Linked DNA regions of Homo sapiens. The protein of the gene in region 5 purifies or fractionates together with the protein of the main gene of each other region. This does not show direct contact. Each region holds a gene or a part of one and is shown on either strand. Other genes may lie near its edges. The genes, in order: IFT172, MNAT1, NUP188, MAST4, CILK1 and TPP2.

Region 1 (3,500 bases), on a different chromosome or scaffold from region 5:
CCAGAATTGGGCAAAGCGATAAAGCAGGAGGATCAGCAAAGATTGATGAGGAGCCCTCAGGCCTTCTAACCTAATATAATGAAGAGTTAGAGGATCATAGTGATGGTGGTGTGGCTATTTTCTGGTTTGAGGATTTGCAGGAAAATAGACTTTTTACTTCTGACTTTGGAGATAGGTGAGTTTGGAGTGTAAAGTGTCAATGTTTGAAGCCAGAACTCTAGTGTCCAAATAATTAAACAATTGGGGCAGAAGAAAAGCAGAATAAAATGTTTTGTTTTCAAGGAAGGAAACCCTTAGTAGCAGAGCTAGTCCCTTAGGACCAGAGCTAGTGTTGGAAGGGTCAGATCTGGTCAGAATAATTCACCTGGAGATAACTTCTAACTTGGGTTTCTCTGAAGTGGGTAGTTAAGAAGAAAAGAAAGTGGGATTATTCGTCCTGAGTCTCAACTCGTACTCGCCCATCCTGAACTCTCACTGTCTCTCCCTTTCCTTTCAAATAAGCCCAAACTCCTTTGCCTGGCTTCAAAGACTTCCTGAGCTGGCCTGTTTTTCCTGCCTTACCCCGTCTATTCTACTATTTATAAGGTATAATAGTTTCAAATAAACTAAATTACTGTTTCTTGTCCAGAATTTGCCTTTGCTCATTGCCATTCCTCCCATCTCAGATAACTTCCTACTCAACTGCATTCATTCTTCAAAGCTTAATTTTGATAATTTAAGCATAAAATTCTCTCAGGCTTCTCCAAACTATTGTAGTACTTTATACATACTTTAATAGGACTTTTCTATTTTGCACCATCTTATTAGACGTGGAGGCAGGATCTATGGTTTGCTTTTTGTCTCTCTCTCAGCCCCTGGCCAAGTGCCTTGATCAATAAGGTGCTAAAAAAATATTAATTGAATGAATGGCTAATGACCAAAACTTACCAGACTAATTGAATTTATTTCAGTAGCAGACCTGGAAACGAGGAGGCCGTTGCAGGGATTCATTGATACAGTTGACTTAGCACCCTGCCTCTTAGTGCATTTGCATATGAGTCTCTAGAAGCCTGTTGTTCTCACAGTCCAGGATCTGAAGGCCTTGGAGACCAGCATGGGCCACAGGCATCTCTTTGTTTTGAGGATAGAACCGTGACAGGAAGAAAATTGACCAGTATTACACTAGAATTAATGAAGCTAGAAATGCTTTTGGCATTCTAGACCAGCACATGGGTTTGTTTTTACCCCTTTGCCTCTACAGGATGGAGCTGCAAAGGTGACCTGCATGGCTTGGTCCCAGAACAATGCCAAATTTGCTGTCTGCACAGTGGACCGAGTGGTCTTGCTGTATGATGAACATGGAGAACGGAGAGATAAATTCTCCACCAAACCAGCTGACATGAAGGTAAACAGTGTATTCATGTGTACCTTATTTAACCTATTGATGGGGTCTCACAACTTGAAAGACGTAGTCTGCCTTCTAGCCATCAGCATAGGAAATGGCATACCCCACCTTTTTCTCAGTATAAATCCTCAAGCTCCCTTAGGAGCACACATATGCCTTTTTTTCTCTTTTCTCTTTCATGTGTACTCATTACTTCTTTTTCTTTCTTTTTTTTTTTTTAAACTCTTAGTATGGCAGGAAGAGCTATATGGTGAAGGGCATGGCTTTTTCTCCTGATTCCACTAAAATTGCCATAGGACAGACTGACAACATCATCTATGTCTACAAGATTGGAGAAGATTGGTGAGGATAGAGACTGGGAGATGGGATGGCCCAGGAAAGAAGGGGAAGGCAAGAGAAATGCCTCACTGGGGAGGGGAAATACAGGGGATGAGAAGCCAAGCTTGGCCATTGAAGGCAGAGACTTTCTGGAGTCTGTTTTTGCTTTTCTGCCTTCACCTGTCCCACGTGTTCTTCAATCCCATCCCTGGAGGAAACAGTCCAAGGTCAACAGGAGGCCCTGTGAGATCCTGGAAGCCCAGAGTGATGTCACATCTTTGTTATTGTTCTGAAGCTGCTTAGGCTCCCTCATATACCTCCTTTCAGGGCTCCTACAGAGTAGTCAGAAATACTACTGGGCCAGGGAAGAAATCTGCTCTTTCTTCTCTTCCCTCAGCATCATTTTTGGCAATTTGTTTATGGAAGTGGTATTTATTTATTTATTTATTTTGAGATAGAGTCTCACTCTGTCACCCAGGCTGGAGTGCAGTGGCGCGATTGTGGCTCACTGCAAGCTCCTCCTCCCAGGTTCACGCAATTCTCCTGCCTCAGCCTCCCGAGTAGCTGGGACTACAGGCGCCCACCACCACACCCGGCTAATTTTTTGTATTTTTAGTAGAGACGGGGTTTCACTGTGTTAGCCAGGATGGTCTCGATCTCCTGACCTCATGATCCTCCCGCCTCGGCCTCCCAAAGTGCTGGGATTACAGGCATGAGCCACCACGCCCGGCCTGGAAGTGGTTTTTAATATGTTTCCCCTTCTTTTGTTTGGCAGGGGTGACAAGAAAGTCATCTGCAACAAGTTCATCCAGACGGTAAAGTTCAGACCAGTCCCTGGAACCTTAGGATGAACAAACATATATCAGTATATCTACTTATAAATACAGCCAGGAGTTGCATTTCTAACATCTGAATGTGACTTTTCCTACTGCAAGGATGGTGCTTCATGGCTGTTCATGGTCATCTGCTGTCTTCCTTAGAGCCCTGCTGTGTCCTTCCCTATAGGAGATTGAGGTGGTGGTGTGTGGTGGGGTGTTGAAGTTGTTATAAAAGTGCTGGCCCACACAGATGGGGTTATCCTTTTCATTGTTTCCTTCCACGCAGAGTGCTGTCACTTGTCTGCAATGGCCGGCAGAATACATCATTGTCTTTGGACTGGCTGAAGGGAAGGTAAAAGAGGGAAGGGAAACACAAGAGAGGGGGTGGTAGGGATAATGGTTCTGGAGAGAGGAATATGGTTCATCCTCTTTCTTAGGATCAAGTTGCGTACTGGGGAGAATGCATAGGGACCAGTTTTGTGGGACAGTTTTTCCTTTTTTTCTTAGGGCCTAGTTAAATATAAAATAGCCTAACCATACTTGTATCAATTTTTCCATTTTCAGGTTCGTTTAGCAAACACCAAAACTAATAAATCATCTACCATCTATGGGACAGAGTCTTACGTGGTGTCCCTGACAACAAAGTGAGTAAAGAGGAGTAGTATCACTAGAGTCTGGAAGTGTTAGGAAAATGCTGTGGGGAAGTCTGGACTGCAAGACCATAGTATGAAAGGCAGGAGAACTGGTAGCAGGAAGCACAGACAAGGTTGTGTTTGACAGAGAAAGGGGCTTTCTTGGTGAGATAAAATAGTCTCTTCCTGTATTTCTCTCCTTTCTCCTTTTTTAGTTGCTCTGGGAAAGGAATTCTCTCTGGTCATGCAGATGGTACCATCGTTAGGTATTTCTTTGATGATGAAGGCTCTGGAGAGTCACAGGTATGAATAAAGAATGTTGTGGGAGGCTTGGATTGCTTGAGTCCA
Region 2 (3,500 bases), on a different chromosome or scaffold from region 5:
TACCTTGCAGAAGTTATACAAACAATAAAAGAGCCGCTAGGCGGATTGATAAAGTATTATTGGTTATGTACCTAGAAAGATGCTGCTAAAACACTGGTTACCTGGGTTGAAATGTATACCACCAAAAATAAAAATAAACATATCAATTATTTCTCATAATAACAGATAAAAGGAAACCCAAAACTATTAACAAAGAGTAAAGAGTAAAGCCTAAATTGTAAATGAAAAAGACAGATTAATAATATATAGGTATATATATACATATATACACACATATATTTACTATGCCCATGTGTGTATATCTATATACACAAAAATACACATACCAAAATAAACTATAGCTAACACGTAATTTTCTCTAATAGCCTTCAAACTTCAACTTAATGTTACCTCCTCTGCCCACACCTGACATCATTGACCACAGCAACACTGAGTCACTAACTATATAGCACTATTCTCAATCTATAATAAATAACATTTGTTTTGGTTTACTTGTTTTTTTGTCTTTTTGCTATCCTATGCTACTGTATGGTAAGTCTCATGAGGACAGAGTTCATAGCTGTTTTACTCATCACTTCATAACTACTGCTTAACATGCATAACATGTTTACACATAGTAGTGTTTACACATAGTAGGTACTCAATACATAGTAGGTACTCAATACATGTTTATTAATCAAAGAATAAATACAAATGAATAATGAAGCCATCAATCAAGAGGCTCTTCTTTAACAAAGATAAATAATATTACTCAGTTCTCTAAGAACTTAAATGAATTTATAGTTATTTACTTGCTAATCTGTCCACATTTATGAGCAAATAATAATCAATTACTGACATAATTGTTAAAGTCCTCTTTGTTGACTGAATCATTCGAGCAGGAATACTTACATCTTTAGCACTTTTTTCCTGATCTCAACCTCCTTGTCAACAGTGGGATCTTCAAAGAGTTGTACCCTGAAGTTGCTCTTTCTGAGTGGAGTACCACACTCAGGGCAGTTTCCAGCTCCTCTCACAAACAGTAAATCTACACAACTTTCACAGCTGTAAGGACAGAAATAAAACATAACATTTAAGCCAATGTTCAAATCTACAACACATCTGAATAGTTTGCCCCTATGGGATAAGGAGAGTGAGACTTGAAAACTAGTCACTTCTATTTAAAATCTTACCAAAAAACTTTCTGGAAAATGTTCTTTTTCATTTGGAGCTTACTTTTCAGATATAGGTATCCCAAGTGATACCAGTTTAGTTTTACAGATCAAACAAATTTATAAATTAAAACAAATTGAGTGAGAGACTAGGAAGAAGAGCAGGATAGGGAGAAGTCAAAGAGCATGTAAAAGGCTACTGTATGGTCACCTCCATCCCCAGTCCCAATATCATCCATAGACCTGGGCAAGAGAAGCCTCTGCCAGGGGCCTGCTCTTTAGAGAGCCCTATATACCCCAAGCACTAAAACAGATGTTTTTTTCTTCCTTTCCTTGTAAGAATGTCTTTTGAAAGTTCAGTAATCAACTGAGCAAATGACAATTACAAGAAAGAGGTGCTAGCTGAATGAGGCCTCACTGGCCAGAGGATAAAGAACTTTGAGCGCTCCAGTATGTGTGAGGGAGAAAATGAACACAACTTCTGCCATGAGAAATCCCAGAAAGAGTGGCTGCTTATAAAAGCTTTATTCGGTTAAAGTTCGTTGCCCCAAATAAAGCAAACCGAATTCCCAGGCAAGCCAGGTTTCCCAGATACCTGCATCCCCTTTTCTGGTAGTGCAACATTAAGAAGGGCTTACAACTTCCTAGAAGACTTGAGTTGAAAAAACAATGAACTGGAGAGGCAAACCTCTCTATAACCAGATTCCTGGGGACTTGGTGGGATCTGTTAATATACTGTTTTAGATGGGTCTAGGTACCACCCCAATCATCCCTGCCCTACCCCAACAGATCCATACTACCACTCAGTCAGGCAGGTTACAAAGATGGATGGGAGGAGAGAGCAGTTCCTTTAGCCTCTGAGTCTTGAGGGTATAGGCTGCTGGCAACTCAACATGCTGTGTAGGAAATCAGGCTGGGCCAAGGATGTGGCTTGATTTATAACTTTTAAATATTCGAATGTTTTGATAAATATTTAAACATTTGTAGTCCTCCAGGTGTAATCTTGCCCAATTCCATATGTGTTAGGACCACACAGTCCTAATCACTCCTTTTGTTGGCAATATCTGACATCATCTTATTTATTTCTGTGTTCTGTCTCCTAGACAAGGAAGTACAGTATATTTCATAAAGACAGAATGTTGCCTATCTTGTTCTCTATCCGCAGTGCCTAACGCTAAGTACTCACTAAGTAAACTTCACAAAACAAAAAAATGAATACAAGACAAAGGGAAAAAGAGAAATTCTAATGAATAGGGAAGAGTTGATTTCTTCCAAGTGTGTATTTAACTTACAGAATAAGCTAAATAAGAAAAGTAATAAGAAAAATAAGAATTTTTAAGGTTATTAGTAAAATACTAACATTGATCTTTAAATATATACATACACACACAGACATATATATACACACATATGTATATATATACCTATTTTATATATATATATATATATTTTTTTTTTTTTTTTTTTTTTTTTGAGAATGCAGTGAAGTTGTCACAGCTCTCTGCAGCCTTGCCCTCCCAGATTCAGGCAATCGTCCTACATCAGGCTCCTCAGTAGCTGGGATAACAAGCACACACTGTCACGCTCTGCTAATTTTTTTATTTTTTTGTAGAGACTGGGACTCCCCATGTTGCTCAGGCTGGTCTCGAACTCCTGGGCTCAAGCGATCCTCCTGCCTTGACCTCCCAAGGTTCTGGGATTATAGGCATGAGCCACCACTCCTGGCCTATATTTCTATCTTAATAGTGTCACTAAAAAATAACAGGGAAAAATTCCAAAGATCATAGTGTCATTAGCAAGATCAACTAAACCCCAGATAAACCACTCTGGACTTAGGAAGTTTCAGAGTGGTGCATTTTCACTATTCTTTGTGGTTAGAGGAAATTAAACCCATCCATGGAAGGTGAAAACAGGCAAACTTTACAACTATACTAACTAAAGATATTTATAAGTAAGCATCTATCCAAAATAGTCAAAATTACAGAGCCACAAATAACATTAATATATCTCAAGGTCTTGGAGATTAGACTCAATCAATAGTTTAGTCAGCAAGGTAATATAGAACATTAATATTTCTAAACGTTATATTGTATATTAGACATAATATATTGTTTCCAAAATCAGTTGTACATCTCCACTTTTTATAATCTGCCTTGTCATAATAATTTAAATAGTATTAAAATTTTTTATTGCAGTTTATTTTCCTACGTAACATTTTCCATTTCTAATTTTAACTGTGAAAAGAATATTTTTTCTTTAAAGCTTATAAAATATAGAATTATATAGAAAAATAACTCAAAGTTCTACTTCATTGTGTTCTGTATCTCACTTCCCACGGGTAATATGCTA
Region 3 (3,500 bases), on a different chromosome or scaffold from region 5:
AGGTCAGGAGATTGAGACCATCCTGGCTAACACGGTGAAATCCTGTCTCTACTAAAAACACAAAAAATTAGCCGGGCGTGGTGGCAGGCGCCTATAGTCCCAGCTACTTGGGAGGCTGAGGCAGGAGAATGGCGTGAACCCGGGAGACAGAGCTTCCAGTGAGCCAAGATCACGCCATTGCACTCCAGCCTGGGAGACAGAGCGAAACTCCATCTCAAAAAAAAAAGAAACTCTACCAAATCCTTATCACCTCTAATAGCCCAAGATTCTATGATTAACATGTCAGTCTTTGACCTCTCCACTCCTCCAAGTATGAAGACAGATCTCAGCTTATATGCATATATATTCTTTACTTTTTAAAGAGATAGGGTCTCACTCTTTTGCCTAGGCTGGAGTGCAGTAGTGCGATCACAGTTCACTGCAGCCTCAAACTCCTGGACTCAAGTGATCCTCCTGCCTCAGCCTCCCAAGAAGCTGGGAGTACAGGCACAAGCCATTGCACCCAGGTCATGTTTTTTTTAAAGCCTTTAGTAGGTCTTCCCTGAAGATGACGGTACCTGATCACCTACCACCGATAAAAGAATTGGTGCCAAAATCCTACATTATCTAAAACCAACAGGGAAAAAGGATAAAGGCAGAAGAAAGGAGCTGACATAAACCACAAACCTTTACTGAGTCCCGAGTACCCCTGTAGTCCTCTTGCAGGTAACACTGGAGTAACTGCACACTCTGTTCTTCATCAAGACCCTGAAACACAGAGATTTTAAGTAAGGAACAGCTCAGAAATCGCACACAGGATGCAGAGAATTTAAAGATTTGTCTTCTACAATGAACACAGGACTTGAATAAACAAAAATGCTTCTCAAAGATTCATAAAACATAACAATTCTGACTCTAATAGAAGACAAGAGCCAGTCACTGACATACAATTTTTATTACAATTAAATGTACATGCCAGAAACAACGATGCTTATTCACTAAGCACATTAATACAGCAGTAGGCATGATGTGAGCTTCCAAAATGACAAACTTAGTCACCTTAAAGACCACCACATGTCTGGTGAAGAAAACCCTATGATATGCAGTGAATGGATCAGGCAACTTTGACTTGTAACTTTTAGGGAGAAGAGTTGCAACCTGGGTATTTATAAAACAATTTAATCCCCAAAACAAAAAGAAACTGAATTTTCACTATCACTAGCAATATAACCACGCACATCCACACTGCAAGTAATAAATTGAGCGAGTGCTAATTTTTACTCACCAAAAACTTGCTGATTCTTAAACCCAGTTCCTTCAATGGTGAAGCTACATCTTTATTAGCTTTCACTTTTTCAGCTGAACTTGGACTACAAAAAGAACAGTGAATCATTTCTTCATTCTCAATAGCCCACTGAGTTTAAAATAAAAATATTTTAAAATATTTTTCCTACAGACTATTTTCTGCCCTTCAGATGCCTATAAACACACACACAAACACACACACGCACACACACACACACACACACACACACACCCATTCACCTCTACAAACTTCATAACGCAGAACTGGTTATGCCTAACAAAACAAAACAAAAAAAAAGTGGTTAAATTACAGTTATAACAATGTTATTTGTAAACACATTAAGTTACATTATTTTTGATCCTTACTACTGCCCTAAAAGGCAAATATTACTATTCTCCTTTTACAAATGGAATTGCCAGCACTTAGGGTAAATAACTTACCAAAAATCCCACAGCTCATAAACAGTTGCTAAAATTTAAAACCAGGTCTGTGGCATACATACATATATTAATATATTATCTGTAATAGCTCTGTCCACCGAGAAGGCCTAGAATTTATAATACTCCAACAGCAGGAGGTACATGCAGCACCCAGATCCTGCTTTATAATACCATTCTCTAATAACAGGATTCCTTGGAGAATTGGTTGATTCTAGAGTCAGGGCAAGGAAAATACAAGAAAATCTTGAAGCATCTTATAGTGAAAAGAAGTACAAAAGGGCTTAAGAAACCAAAGTCCTTTCGGTAGGAGATGACATAATAGAAAAAAAAGAAAAGAAAAAAAGAAAAAAGGAAGGACACGCCCAAAGGACAGAGGCCAACCTAAAAGAATGCCCAATAGCCAAAGCTGAAACAAGGTATAAACAAAGTATAAGATAAATAAAATAAATATATTTGAGTCTATACTGATATAAACTAATGAATAAATAAATAGGATAGGGAGGGGCCAGAACAATGGCTCATGCCTGTAATCCCAGCACTTTGGGAGGCCAAGGCAGGAGTGTAGCTTGAGGCCAGGAGTTTGAGACCAGCCTAGACAACAAAGTGAGACCCTCATCTCCACCAAAAGTGAAAAAAATTAGCTGGACATGGCTATATTTAGTACTCACTTCCAAAAAATAAAATAGGAAAAGAGAAAAAAGTAACTTTACAGAGGAGAAACTTGGCAAATGCCTCCTTAACTGAGTGACCAAGATTAACATTACCAGTGATTTCATGTGGACAGCATGTACTCTCTGCTATGATGTGGTAAGAAGGGTAGCTTGGCCAGGCGTGGTGGCTCACGCCTGTAATCCCAGCACTTTGGGAGGCTGAGGCGGGCGGATCACCTGAGGTCAGGAGTTCAAGACCAGCCTGACCAATATGGTGAAACCCTGTCTCTACTAAAAATACAAAAATTAGCCAGGCATGGTGGCATGCACCTGTAGTCCCAGCTACTCGGGAGGCTGAGACAGAATTGCTTGAACCCAGGAGGCAAAGGTTGCAGTGAGCTGAAATCGCACCATTGCACGCGAGCATGGGCAACAAGAGCGAAACTCCATCTCAAAAAAAAAAAAAAGAAGAGCACCTCACCTCTGTGTATTTTTCCCAAAAACTCACAACCCCAGTCTAATAATAAGGAAAACATCAGACAAACCCAAATTGGGGGCATACTACAAAATAACTGACCAGTCCTCAAACTTGTTCAAGGTCATGAAAATCAAGGTAAGACTAAGACATTGTCGACATTGTCACCGGCCGCGGTGGCTCACGCCTGTAATCCCAGCACTTTGGGAGGCCGAGGCGGGCGGATCATGAGGTCAGGAGATTGAGACCATCCTGGCGAACACAGTGAAACCCTGTCTCTACTAAAAATACAAAAAATTAGCCAGGCGTGGTGGCGGGCGCCTGTAGTCCCTGCTACTCGGGAGGCTGAGGCAGGAGAATGGCGTGAACCCGGGAGGCAGAGCTTGCAGTGAGCCGAGATCGTGCCACTGCACTCCAGCCTGGGCCACAGAGCGAGACTCCATCTCAAAAAAAAAAAAAAAAAAAGACTAAGACATTGTCACAGCGGGCGCCTGTAGTCCCAGCTACTCGGGAGGCTGAGGCAGGAGAATGGCGTGAACCCGGGAGGCAGAGCTTGCAGTGAGCCGAGATCGTGCCACTGCACTCCAGCCTGGGCCACAAAGCGAGACTCCATCTCAAAAAAAAAAGACTAAGACATTGTCACAGCTAAG
Region 4 (3,500 bases), on a different chromosome or scaffold from region 5:
AAACAGTGCCATAGCAACTGCTGTTAGCAACATCAAATCTCCTACTGATAAATTATCAGAAAAACTTGTGGGGCTTTGGTTGTAGAATGAAAAAGTATGATTTTCATGTCTGTATTTCTTTGCTGATATGTTCTCAAAATTGTTGTTAAAAACTGATGTTTGCCTTTGCTTAGTGGGGATAGTTTAACACTTTCCTCTCTGTCTCTACCTGCCCCCTTCCAGGTGGTGCATATGAAGTCAAACAGCATCGATTCTTCCGTTCTTTAGACTGGAACAGTTTGCTGAGACAGAAGGCAGAATTTATTCCCCAACTGGAATCTGAGGATGACACAAGTTATTTTGATAGTATGTGCTTTATCTGACATAAAACATTGTTTGGCCTTTACTCGATAAATAATTATCTTTGCTTTTGAACCTTTTCATATCTCTGAGTTCTTAAACATAATGTTGATCCAGAAAATCATAATTAAAATATCTAAATGTTGAAAATCTGAGTAATTGGACCTGTTCCCAAACATTTCACTGCAGCTCGGTCTGAGAAGTATCATCATATGGAAACGGAGGAAGAAGATGACACAAATGATGAAGACTTTAATGTGGAAATAAGGCAGTTTTCTTCATGTTCACACAGGTTTTCAAAAGTAAGTGAAATGTGGCATAAACATACAGAGTCTCTCTGGGAGGATCTCCCGCTGGCCAGATAGTATCCCCGAACAGCTGGACACTTACCGTTTTCCAGGGTTTGAGGTCTCCTATGCTTAAACTTCCTTTTGTTGAAGAAAAGTGACCTCCTCAACTTATAGTCTGTCCCTATCCCCTAGGCCTTTAGACTGCCATTTTACCTTCTCTCTTTCCTGTGAGACAACAGAGATTCAGATAGCTGAGACCTTGGGCTTACCTGAGCTCTGATCCCCTTCAGGAACCCCGGCACCAATATATTTCTCTCTCCACAAATTAAGATATTGTTTTCTTAGAGGCATAGCCTTGCACCCACAGTCTTGTTTTTGGAGTGTGTGACTGCTACTTATATGATGACCTTGCCTTGAACGTCTCTCACCTGGCTCAATGCCAGGCTGCAGAGGTATCACTCATTGCTTTCAACTCAGGATGAAGAGCGCGAGCTTCACTGTGTACAGAGTCATCTCCGAGGGATTACACAGAGTACAACAAAAGGAGAAGGCTCAGTCCTTGACATAAGCAAAGATACCTGCGGACAGTTGACTGTAGGATTGTAAAGTCTCATAACTGCCAGGCATAGTGGCTCACGCCTCTAATCTCAGCACTTAGAGAGGCAGAGGCAAGAAGATAGCGTAAGCCCAGCAGTTCAAGACCAGCCCGGGCAATATAGTGAGACCCCGTTCTCCACAAAAAGGAAAAAAAAAGCCAAAAAAAAAAAAAAGTCTTGTAACCAATAAACAGAAATTATAAGCCATATTGAAAAGGCAGTAGGAAGCCAAGCTAGAATCATTTAGATAATTGATGCTTGAGAAAGATGCCTTTTTACCAGTACAGTAAAAGTTAAAAAAAACAATTAATCAAAACAAAGAAAACTGATAGTACTGAGACAGAACAAGGCCCTAGGAAAAACGGAAATCAACCTGAGGGCACCCTACCTCCCTTTTGCTATTTTCAGTAGCTATATATTTTCTGTTGCCATGGCATTTTGCATGATTATTGTTTAGCTTTTCTATAACATTTAGTGATTTTAAAGTGCTCCGTAGCTTTTTCTAAATGATTACCTAGATGCACCTGCAAATTGGCCAGCACTACCCTCCTGTGTATGGGAATGGCATCGAGGTAAGGATTTCCCTGGAGAAGGTGGTAGCCAGTCTGTCCTAGAGCCAGGACAGAAGCTTTGCTAAGTGTGGACTCAGACCAGGACTGTTCTCTGGGCCATCAAAGACAACAATGCCAACCCCTAAACACTGCTTCCTTCTTTGCCTTGGTGGGTATTTCATTTTCCCACCATCTCCTTTTCTGTAGCCACTTTCCTGCTATTCCTAGTAGATTATAGGAGGCCTGAGGACCATTCCCATGAGAGCAGCAAGTGTCTGAGCAGGGCAGTAGGGAGCGCTTCCTGCCCTAGGCTCTTAGACCCCCATTTTACCTTCTCTCTTATGAGACAACAGAGATTCACAGATAGCTGAGACCTTGGGCTTACCTGAGCTCCGATCCCCTTCAGGAACCCCGGCACCAACATAGGAAACTGCCTGTCTATAGATGTGATTTGTAAGCGAAACAAATACCTCTGGCTCTTATAACGGAATATGTACTGCATCCTTGCCACACCACCACCCAGTCTTGAAACAGATAATTTATTCTTCTGTTTGCACTCAATTCCAATTCATTTTTCTTCTTCCCACCCCTGACTGGTGGCCATTAAATCTGTTTCTCTGTTATTTTCTTTTTCCAGTTGACTTCATGGTTAAAAAGTAATCAAGATGTGCATTGATCCCAAGGCCTAGAAACTCCACTGCATCTGTGGATTTTGTTTGCAGATACAAAGTCCGCAACAAGATATGATGAGAGGATGATGAATTCATAGCTCCCTATTCGTATATATGTACACACACACACACACACACACACACACACTCACTCACCCTGACCCTTCCTCTCTGGATTCTGGTTAACAACACTGGAAAGTACTTTCTGAATACACAATATTAGTTCAGAATTTAGTTATCCTCTCAGGTTTTTCTCCCAAGACTTGGAGTGTTTTTCTGACAAACTCTTTTTAGTAGATATTAATAAGCACCAATTATTTGCCTTCCAGGTTTTCAGCAGTATAGATCGAATCACTCAGAATTCAGCAGAAGAGAAGGAAGACTCTGTGGACAAAACCAAAAGCACCACCTTGCCATCCACAGAAACACTGAGCTGGAGTTCAGAATATTCTGAAATGTATGTGAAATGCCTCTTAAGTAATATAAGCAGTAGCTACTAGAGCAGAGTTTCTTAAACTTTAGTGAGCATCAGAATACCTGGGGGGCTTGTTAAAACACAGATCTCCCACTTCCAGAGTTTCTCATCCAGTAGATCTAGGGTAGGGCCTGAAAATGTGCATTTCTGACAAGTATCTAGATTATGCAGATGTTGCTGCTGTGGGTACCACACATTAAGAACCATTGCACTAGACATCTCTTGGTTAGGCTTATCCAAGTCCGATTTTCACCTGGTTTCTTCCAAAATTCACCTTTAACACAGTTTTCTAGTATGTATATATGACTTTGTTTTTGCTTTTAATTAAGGCAACAGCTATCAACATCCAACTCTTCAGATACTGAAAGCAACAGACATAAACTCAGTTCTGGCCTACTTCCCAAACTGGCTATTTCAACAGAGGGAGAGCAAGATGAAGCTGCCTCCTGCCCTGGAGACCCCCATGAGGAGCCAGGAAAGCCAGCCCTTCCTCCTGAAGAGTGTGCCCAGGAGGAGCCTGAGGTCACCACCCCAGCCAGCACCATCAGCAGCTCCACCCTGTCAGGTAAGCCCCGGGC
Region 5 (3,500 bases):
GTACTAGAAATAGTATATCCGGGTTTATGTTTTTCTCCTGGACCTAATTCTTCTGCCTCTGTACATTTTAGCAAGCAAACCTTTTAAGCATTTTGCCTCTTGGACTACTGCTTTTTTTCTGCATAAGGAATAGCAGTTACAAAGCCAAAAGGACCTTCTTTACATGGATCTTGCTTTGTCTTTACCTTGACAGAGGAGTGAATTAAAGATGCATTCAGCTATTGCATCAACTGGATGTTAACAAGAGAAGATAATCCGTTACATGATGTGCCTTCTTCTGTGCCCCAGAAACTTCTTCATACCTTTACCATCCCTCTCCTCTTTCAATCCCAGCTTCTGAAAAAAGAACTCGTCCTGCACTAGGTCCTTAATCCCATGAGAAGCTTCCATAACTCCCTGTCGCTTCTCTTACAATATAAAAGGTGCTCACGCCTTGAACCTTAAAAAAGTTCTTCAATCACTTGCAGATGATTTTTAAACTAGGACACATAGTTGGCTTTGGTGGACTGTAAAGAACTGAAGTAAAGGCGAAATGTTAAAAAAAATAAAAAATAAAAAAACAGCCAGAAAAACAAACCTTTACCCTGCCATGTGTGAAACTGTAGATGAGCTAGAACGAGAGTCCCCAGCTTAATGAAAACTGCCGAGGGTGGCAATAGTCCTGCTTGCCTGTGTTTCAGGGGTGGGCAAGATAAGGGATAGTGAAGATAGGGGAGTGACTAAGAGCATATCACAAGTTCATGTAGATAGTAACTTTCATGATACTGGCAAATAAGTAGCTGGACGTTACACAATAATACTTTACCTTTCTGGTTCTAACGCATTATCTTTTACGGTAGTTACAAGGACAGCCACATGTTATCAGTATTTATATGCTATTACAACACATTTGACTAAGGAGCTGATCTCAGTGTAAGATGCTTTGCTAGCATGTATACAAAAAATCAAAATGAATTAAAGGAAGTAAAGGCTTAATGTAAAAATAAAATAGGGCAGGGATAAGCACGTTTTTTCTGTGAAGGGTCAGTAAACAGGATAGGCTTTGCAGGCTCTCCATCTCCGTCACAACTCCACTCTGCCATTGTAGCATGAAAGCAGTCAAAGACAATATGTAAATACATGGGCATGGCTGTGTTCCAGTACAAATTTATTTACAAAAACAGGCAGCAGGAAGGACTGGCACACAAGCCATAGTTTGTCAAGCCCTGAAGATGAGGAAATCCCCCAAATAAGCAGAAGCACTTTAGTACTCTCCATAGAGCCCTCACTTACCCCTAGGTTACAGGGCTACATACAAGCTGTGTTTAACCTTAGAATATAAGCTCTGTGAGGTCAGAAACGTTGCAATATTCACAACTGTATTCCCAGTACTCAGTTCCCAGAGAACTGGCATAGTTGGCACAAGTACGGACTCACAATAAAGACATGTTCAATGAATTAACTAATGAATGAACAACTTATGGAGCTTTAAAAGGCAATCCTGACCATAGATGATTTTCCTATACTACCACGTCCACCCTCACTGTCATCCCGTCACGCCCCACTTCTTTGCAAACTGGACAACTGTACTGGGACTAGGGTACCAAAATTATGACTCCTTCTAAAAACTTTTACACTAATTTAGGAAAAAACTTGCTTTTCAACAGCTAAGATCACATGAAGGCATGTATATCTTACATTTTTCTTACTCCCCTTTGTCTTAGTTAAATCATTCTCTAGTAAATTCTCTTTCAAAGCAAAGGCAATGTCCAAGAGGGCAAAACCATTAATAACTATCTTTTGGGAACCACAAGTTCATGCAGATAGTAACTTTCATGATATTGCCAAATACGTATTTGGGCATTATACAATAGTACTTTCCTTTCCGGTTCTCAGGCATTATCTTTTATGGTAGTCAAAAGAGCAGTCACATGTTATCAATACTTTATCACAGGTCATGCTTCACCTATAGAAAGGTAAAAAATAACTCACACTGATCTCTCCTAAAAAAACGTGTGGTTCTCATAAGCTCTGGGCCATCGTTATACATTTATTAAGTGGCTACTAAGGGTTCTTGACATGGTGGGAAAAGCACCAAATGAAAAGCAAGGCACTATTGTGGCCCTTTCATTTCAAAAAAAGTGAGTTAGGATGACAATCATCTGCTAGGAACTACAAGTTCACGCAGATAGTTACTTTCATGATATTGTCAAATATAGTTGGACATCACACTTATAATACTTTATCTTTTGGTTCAGAGGCATTATCTTTTATAGCAGCCATGATGAGCTTATTTAAAGATAAAATATAACTGAATGCTAATTAACATAGATTTGAATGCTAAATTCATTAGGAACTATGTTCAAAGCCTAATGTTGAACAAACTTCAGACAATAGAGTTAAGAATTTTTTTTTTCTGTAAAGGACCTTAATGATCACTTGACATTCTCACTCTACAGATGAGATCCAACTAAGAAGAACAGAATACTTGCTATCTTCAGAGTAGAATATTTTGAAATGTGTGAGTATAATACATGTTTTATAGCCAACTAAAGATGTATCAAATGTTCCCCACGTGCTCCTTGGTAAAAAGCATATGAATATTTTGCTAATCCTGAGCCCATATAGTTTAAAAAAAGGGGGGAGCAGATGTTTGAAGATGTGCTATCCTCAAACTCAAACATGACTTCACATGTCAACATATGTTGGATTTGATTTCAGCCTGCTCAGGTAAGTCCCACGACAAGACACTCTTCCTACCCAGGAAGACTTCAACTTTCAAAGCACAGAGAGTCAGGTACTTAATGTGCAAAGATAGTTCAGTTTCCTTGGAAGAAAATCAGGAATAGAAGCCTTCTGTTTGGGTTGAGTGTTTCCCTAAAACCTGTTGAGTAGTAGTTTTTCCTAATATTGGACAGCAGTTAACTAGGAGCAGACAGATTGAATGAAGATGCCCATATCAACCTTGGTTACCACCTTGAGGTAGGCCTGAGCTGCTGCTTTTACTTCTTTGGCTGCAATCAAAGGCATCTCTGATTTTCTTCCTGCCACAACATTTCCTTAGCATTTTAATGCAATTTGCCCCAGAAAATGATTTGTTTCACCAAATTCTTTTTACTAGGTAATTTTCTAGAACACATGTGCTTTTATAAGGAAGTTAAAACTGTATTTCAAAGGTAAGCACAACCACAAACTAAGACACAATTACACTGTAATCCCAAAACGTGTATAAGTCATCCGGCACACACACACCTCTGTTTGCGCATTCTCCCTGATTCAACCACATCAACCATAAACACTGAGGTTCACAGATAGGAGAGTTCTAATACTCTAAACATAGGCCCTTCTCAGAAAGCCACAGTCATCAAAGACCACAGGTGAAAGACAACAGTTAAATGAGATACTATTCACAGGCTTTCAGATCAACATACACAGAGAGGTCATTATATCCAGAATTCTCCCAAGGAACCACCAGGCAAATACACACACTCACATAGATCCCACAAGCAGAAAAATGCATT
Region 6 (3,500 bases), on a different chromosome or scaffold from region 5:
GTCAGTATGGCTGACTACATGACACCTAAAAATGCTAGCTGGGAGCAGAACTAAGACAAAATCCCCATTACCTGGTTCTGTATTAGTGATCATTAAAAGTCCACAAGACTCCATGAATAGTCATTAAAATCTTAGATGTACCAGTAAGCTGTGAGTAACCTGTTACTTACTTTGCTGCTATAACTGCAGTGATCGGAACTCTGAAGAGCGGACCTGCGTTAGGGGATGCTATATCATAGCCACATACCTTGAAAAAAGAATCGGTAAGTGTCAATATCCATAAACAAATGTTTAAAAGAGCGGGGGAAGGTCTAAACTACTGACAGAATAAATCAATCTACTTTTAATCAAGGTCTTAACCAGAGGTTGACACCAATTTCCTGACACTAGGTCACATAATTAATAGCAAACAGCCCAAACAAATGTATAGCAACATTTGACCAGTTGAAATGGGAAAATGAGACGTCAGGTACAAAATAAGTGCATTTTAATTACTCCCAACTGAAAAATTAGCTCAAACTAGTACTACAGACAACTTTAGATGTGGAGATACTGTTGTGATACTATTCTATGCCTGGTTTACAACTATTTGTTTAACAGATGCTTTCTTCATCTGAGTACTAAAAGGTATAACTGGCTGGGTGTGGTGGTTCACACCTGTAATCCCAAAGCCCTGGGAGGCCAAGGCAGGAGGATCACTTGAGGCCAAGAGTTCAAGACAAGACTGGGCAACATAGAGAGATCCTGTCTCTACAAAAATAAAAAAATTTAGCCAGGCTTGGTGGTGCACGCCACTAGTCCTAGCTACTCAGGAGGCTAAGGTGTGAATATCACTTGAGCCCAAGAGTTCAAGGCTGCAGCGAACCACGATCACACCACTGTACTCCAGCCTGGGCAACAGAGCAAGACTCTGTCTCTTAAAACAACAACAACAACAACAACAAGCAACTGCAGCTTTGTTTAGCTGACAAAAGAAAACACCAGTTAGAGGGAGATCTAATTGAAAGGTTCTGCTGTACCTCTTCTTTCCTTTTACTTATTCATACAAGGACAAAATATGATTCTTTAGAAACTCACTGCTTAAATGAATATAGACACACCAGAAGAACTGAATAACCTGGCAGATGGATAGGTCTAGTTATTTCTTAGCAAGAAAGCAATATATTGCAAATATACTTTGGATTTTTTTTTAACCTTTTAAACATTTTAAAGAGTGAAGAAAGTAAAAATGAAGATACATCAATACCTCTGTATAATGCAATCCTTCTCTTAAGCCCCTGGGATCCACACGTATGTTTATGTGTCTACATTGATTCATGAGTTCCAAATGGCTGGGACACTGAACCCAAGATGAATTTGAAGTCAGAGCTAAATGAAGCTGAAGGGATATTTTTTCAGAGTTTTCTGGCACGAAAAAGACCAAAAATTAAAGATGAGTATTTTTTTCCTTTTTTCCATTTAAAAATGTTACATCTTTCCAAAAAAATTTAGCGACTTGGTTTGGTTGGCTGTAAAATGCATCCAAAACACAGCTTAAATAAAACAGTCAAATAATCTTCCTTACAATTTAGATTACTCATGATTCATTTATACTTTCACCAAGCACTGGTATGACCTTAAAATAAAGAGTTTAAGTGAATGTTTTCATTACTGCACACAGGTCATAGTATTCAACTGAAATGAAGACAGCCAGATAATAGCGATGATTATTTTTGTTCACACCTAATCGAGCTGCAGTTCTCCTAGACTGCTTCTACTTTTCATTCTTCAACAGAAAGCTCTGTCTTATACCTAAGTAGGTAAAGTGGAAAAGAAATTTGATATTTTATTATCCACAATTTAATAAAGCTGTGGGTCACTGAGGCTCATTCTACTGTTTTCCCTGGTAGTTTAAGATGCTAACTAAATTGCCATTGTACAAGGACCCCAAATTGCTCTAATATTTTCTCTTATGACTAAGATTTAAAATAATCATACTGTCAATTCATGTATTCTCTTCACAACACTGGCCCAAACAGCAATTCTTTATTATGATACCACTCATTCAAACAGCAAATGTGAATACGTCAGCTTACTGCCAGCCTATTACTGACCTGTGTTCTCCGGAAATACAGGTTCAATGCCAACGCCATGATCTGAAGGTGCAGCCACCTGAACAGGATCTCGGAGGTAGATGCCACGGTTATTTCCAACAGTAACAGTAAAACCTAATTTATTAGCAAATGATGTATTCTGAACGAGGTAGTCATAGGCTTTATCAACCTAGTGAAAATAATATACATGGTAAGATATAAATGGTTGGGTCAAAAAATATTTTGTTGCAAATTACCAATCAATTTGATTTCAGTTGTAAAACAAAAAGTTAGTGTCTATATTCACCTCTCAAAACTACCTAGTACCCCAACTAAGAGGACAATTCTACATTTTTAGAAACAACACCAGTCACATCTTCCACTCCACTCTATTCACACTGTTATTCTCAAGTGACCAAATTTAGGAACTAATCCCTATGCCGTTATGATTGGCCAGTTTTTGACCTCGATTTCTTTGAATTTCTAACCTCTACATGGCCTCCATCTATTACATTTCTTGATCTTAGTGCAACAGATTTGTCTTAACTACAAAATTTGTTTGTGTATCCTTTTTGCTTGTAGTTCTATGGCCATATAATCCATAATTCAGATATACTGAATCACTGTTATAAAACAAAATATTACCCAATAATATCTAAGATATTATCTCAATGATGCTTTACAACCCATTTTTCATATAGGCAACAATACCTGAATAATACCATGTCCTTGAGCAAATACTTCTATATTGTCAGCCTTCACTGCAGTGTTTTCTAGAGCTCTTCTGACTGAATGAACTGTGTAGTCAATGTTATTAGCTTTCAGACCTAAAATTAAGAAACAAAAACAAGTAGTGTAGCACTCACTATCTGAAACCTTAGCCGCCCACCAGTATGATCGATCACCTGTAGACCCTCTGGTGTTAATGTCTTGTGTTCTAACACTCATTTTAAAATCTTTTTTGAAGACCTGAACTAAACAGTCTGACTCAAACTGCTTGCATTACATGAAGGCTTCATTCCACAAAAATCACTGTGTTCTCATTATGTGGTGGGCAGAGAGACTGGTGTGGGCTTTGTGGCGTAATATAAACGTACAAAGCAGATATCTAAAAGCATGTGAATGACATTTTCTTTCAAACACTGCTGGGTTAAACAAGATGGCTGTTGGCTGTGGTGTTCAACCCAACTGTATGTTATAAACCCCAGGGGAACTCAAGCAAAAAAGATGCTGAGGTCTCATGACAGACCAATTAAATCAGAATCTCTGAGGACTGTCCCAGAGATTGTTATTTATTAAACAACTCTCAGATGATTCTAGGGTACAGCCAGGTTGGGAATTACTGTTTTATGGGAAGAATATGGAGGCCACCAATTCATAAGATGAGTGCTGTATCATTCTTGTCCTCTCCAGAGCTCATTAAACACA

The links.
Region 1: the proteins of CILK1 (region 5) and IFT172 purify together in Homo sapiens (affinity purification with mass spectrometry, with the first as the bait; one large-scale study listed by BioGRID). This does not show direct contact.
Region 2: the proteins of CILK1 (region 5) and MNAT1 purify together in Homo sapiens (affinity purification with western blotting, with the first as the bait; one study listed by BioGRID). This does not show direct contact.
Region 3: the proteins of CILK1 (region 5) and NUP188 purify together in Homo sapiens (affinity purification with mass spectrometry; one large-scale study listed by BioGRID and IntAct). This does not show direct contact.
Region 4: the proteins of CILK1 (region 5) and MAST4 purify together in Homo sapiens (affinity purification with mass spectrometry; one large-scale study listed by BioGRID and IntAct). This does not show direct contact.
Region 6: the proteins of CILK1 (region 5) and TPP2 purify together in Homo sapiens (affinity purification with mass spectrometry; one large-scale study listed by BioGRID and IntAct). This does not show direct contact.

The regions. Positions count from the first base shown.
Region 1 is NC_000002.12:27,483,244-27,486,743, reverse strand, and holds part of IFT172 (intraflagellar transport protein 172 homolog), read left to right. Parts: intron 1-501; exon of another isoform or gene 502-585; intron 586-1,240; coding exon 1,241-1,384; intron 1,385-1,613; coding exon 1,614-1,726; intron 1,727-2,477; coding exon 2,478-2,517; intron 2,518-2,577; exon of another isoform or gene 2,578-2,716; intron 2,717-2,806; coding exon 2,807-2,872; intron 2,873-3,084; coding exon 3,085-3,164; intron 3,165-3,367; coding exon 3,368-3,455; intron 3,456-3,500. UniProt on the Homo sapiens protein: Required for the maintenance and formation of cilia. Plays an indirect role in hedgehog (Hh) signaling, cilia being required for all activity of the hedgehog pathway.
Region 2 is NC_000014.9:60,793,761-60,797,260, reverse strand, and holds part of MNAT1 (CDK-activating kinase assembly factor MAT1), read right to left. Parts: intron 1,045-3,500; coding exon 892-1,044; intron 1-891.
Region 3 is NC_000009.12:128,954,199-128,957,698, reverse strand, and holds part of NUP188 (nucleoporin NUP188), read right to left. Parts: intron 1,350-3,500; coding exon 1,265-1,349; intron 748-1,264; coding exon 667-747; intron 1-666. UniProt on the Homo sapiens protein: Component of the nuclear pore complex (NPC), a complex required for the trafficking across the nuclear envelope. Required for proper protein transport into the nucleus.
Region 4 is NC_000005.10:67,141,893-67,145,392, forward strand, and holds part of MAST4 (microtubule-associated serine/threonine-protein kinase 4), read left to right. Parts: intron 1-222; coding exon 223-345; intron 346-528; coding exon 529-641; intron 642-2,776; coding exon 2,777-2,904; intron 2,905-3,251; coding exon 3,252-3,487; intron 3,488-3,500.
Region 5 is NC_000006.12:53,055,325-53,058,824, forward strand, and holds part of CILK1 (serine/threonine-protein kinase ICK), read right to left. Parts: intron 1-3,500.
Region 6 is NC_000013.11:102,634,986-102,638,485, reverse strand, and holds part of TPP2 (tripeptidyl-peptidase 2), read right to left. Parts: intron 2,900-3,500; coding exon 2,784-2,899; intron 2,263-2,783; coding exon 2,094-2,262; intron 1,405-2,093; coding exon 1,247-1,404; intron 248-1,246; coding exon 171-247; intron 1-170. UniProt on the Homo sapiens protein: Cytosolic tripeptidyl-peptidase that releases N-terminal tripeptides from polypeptides and is a component of the proteolytic cascade acting downstream of the 26S proteasome in the ubiquitin-proteasome pathway.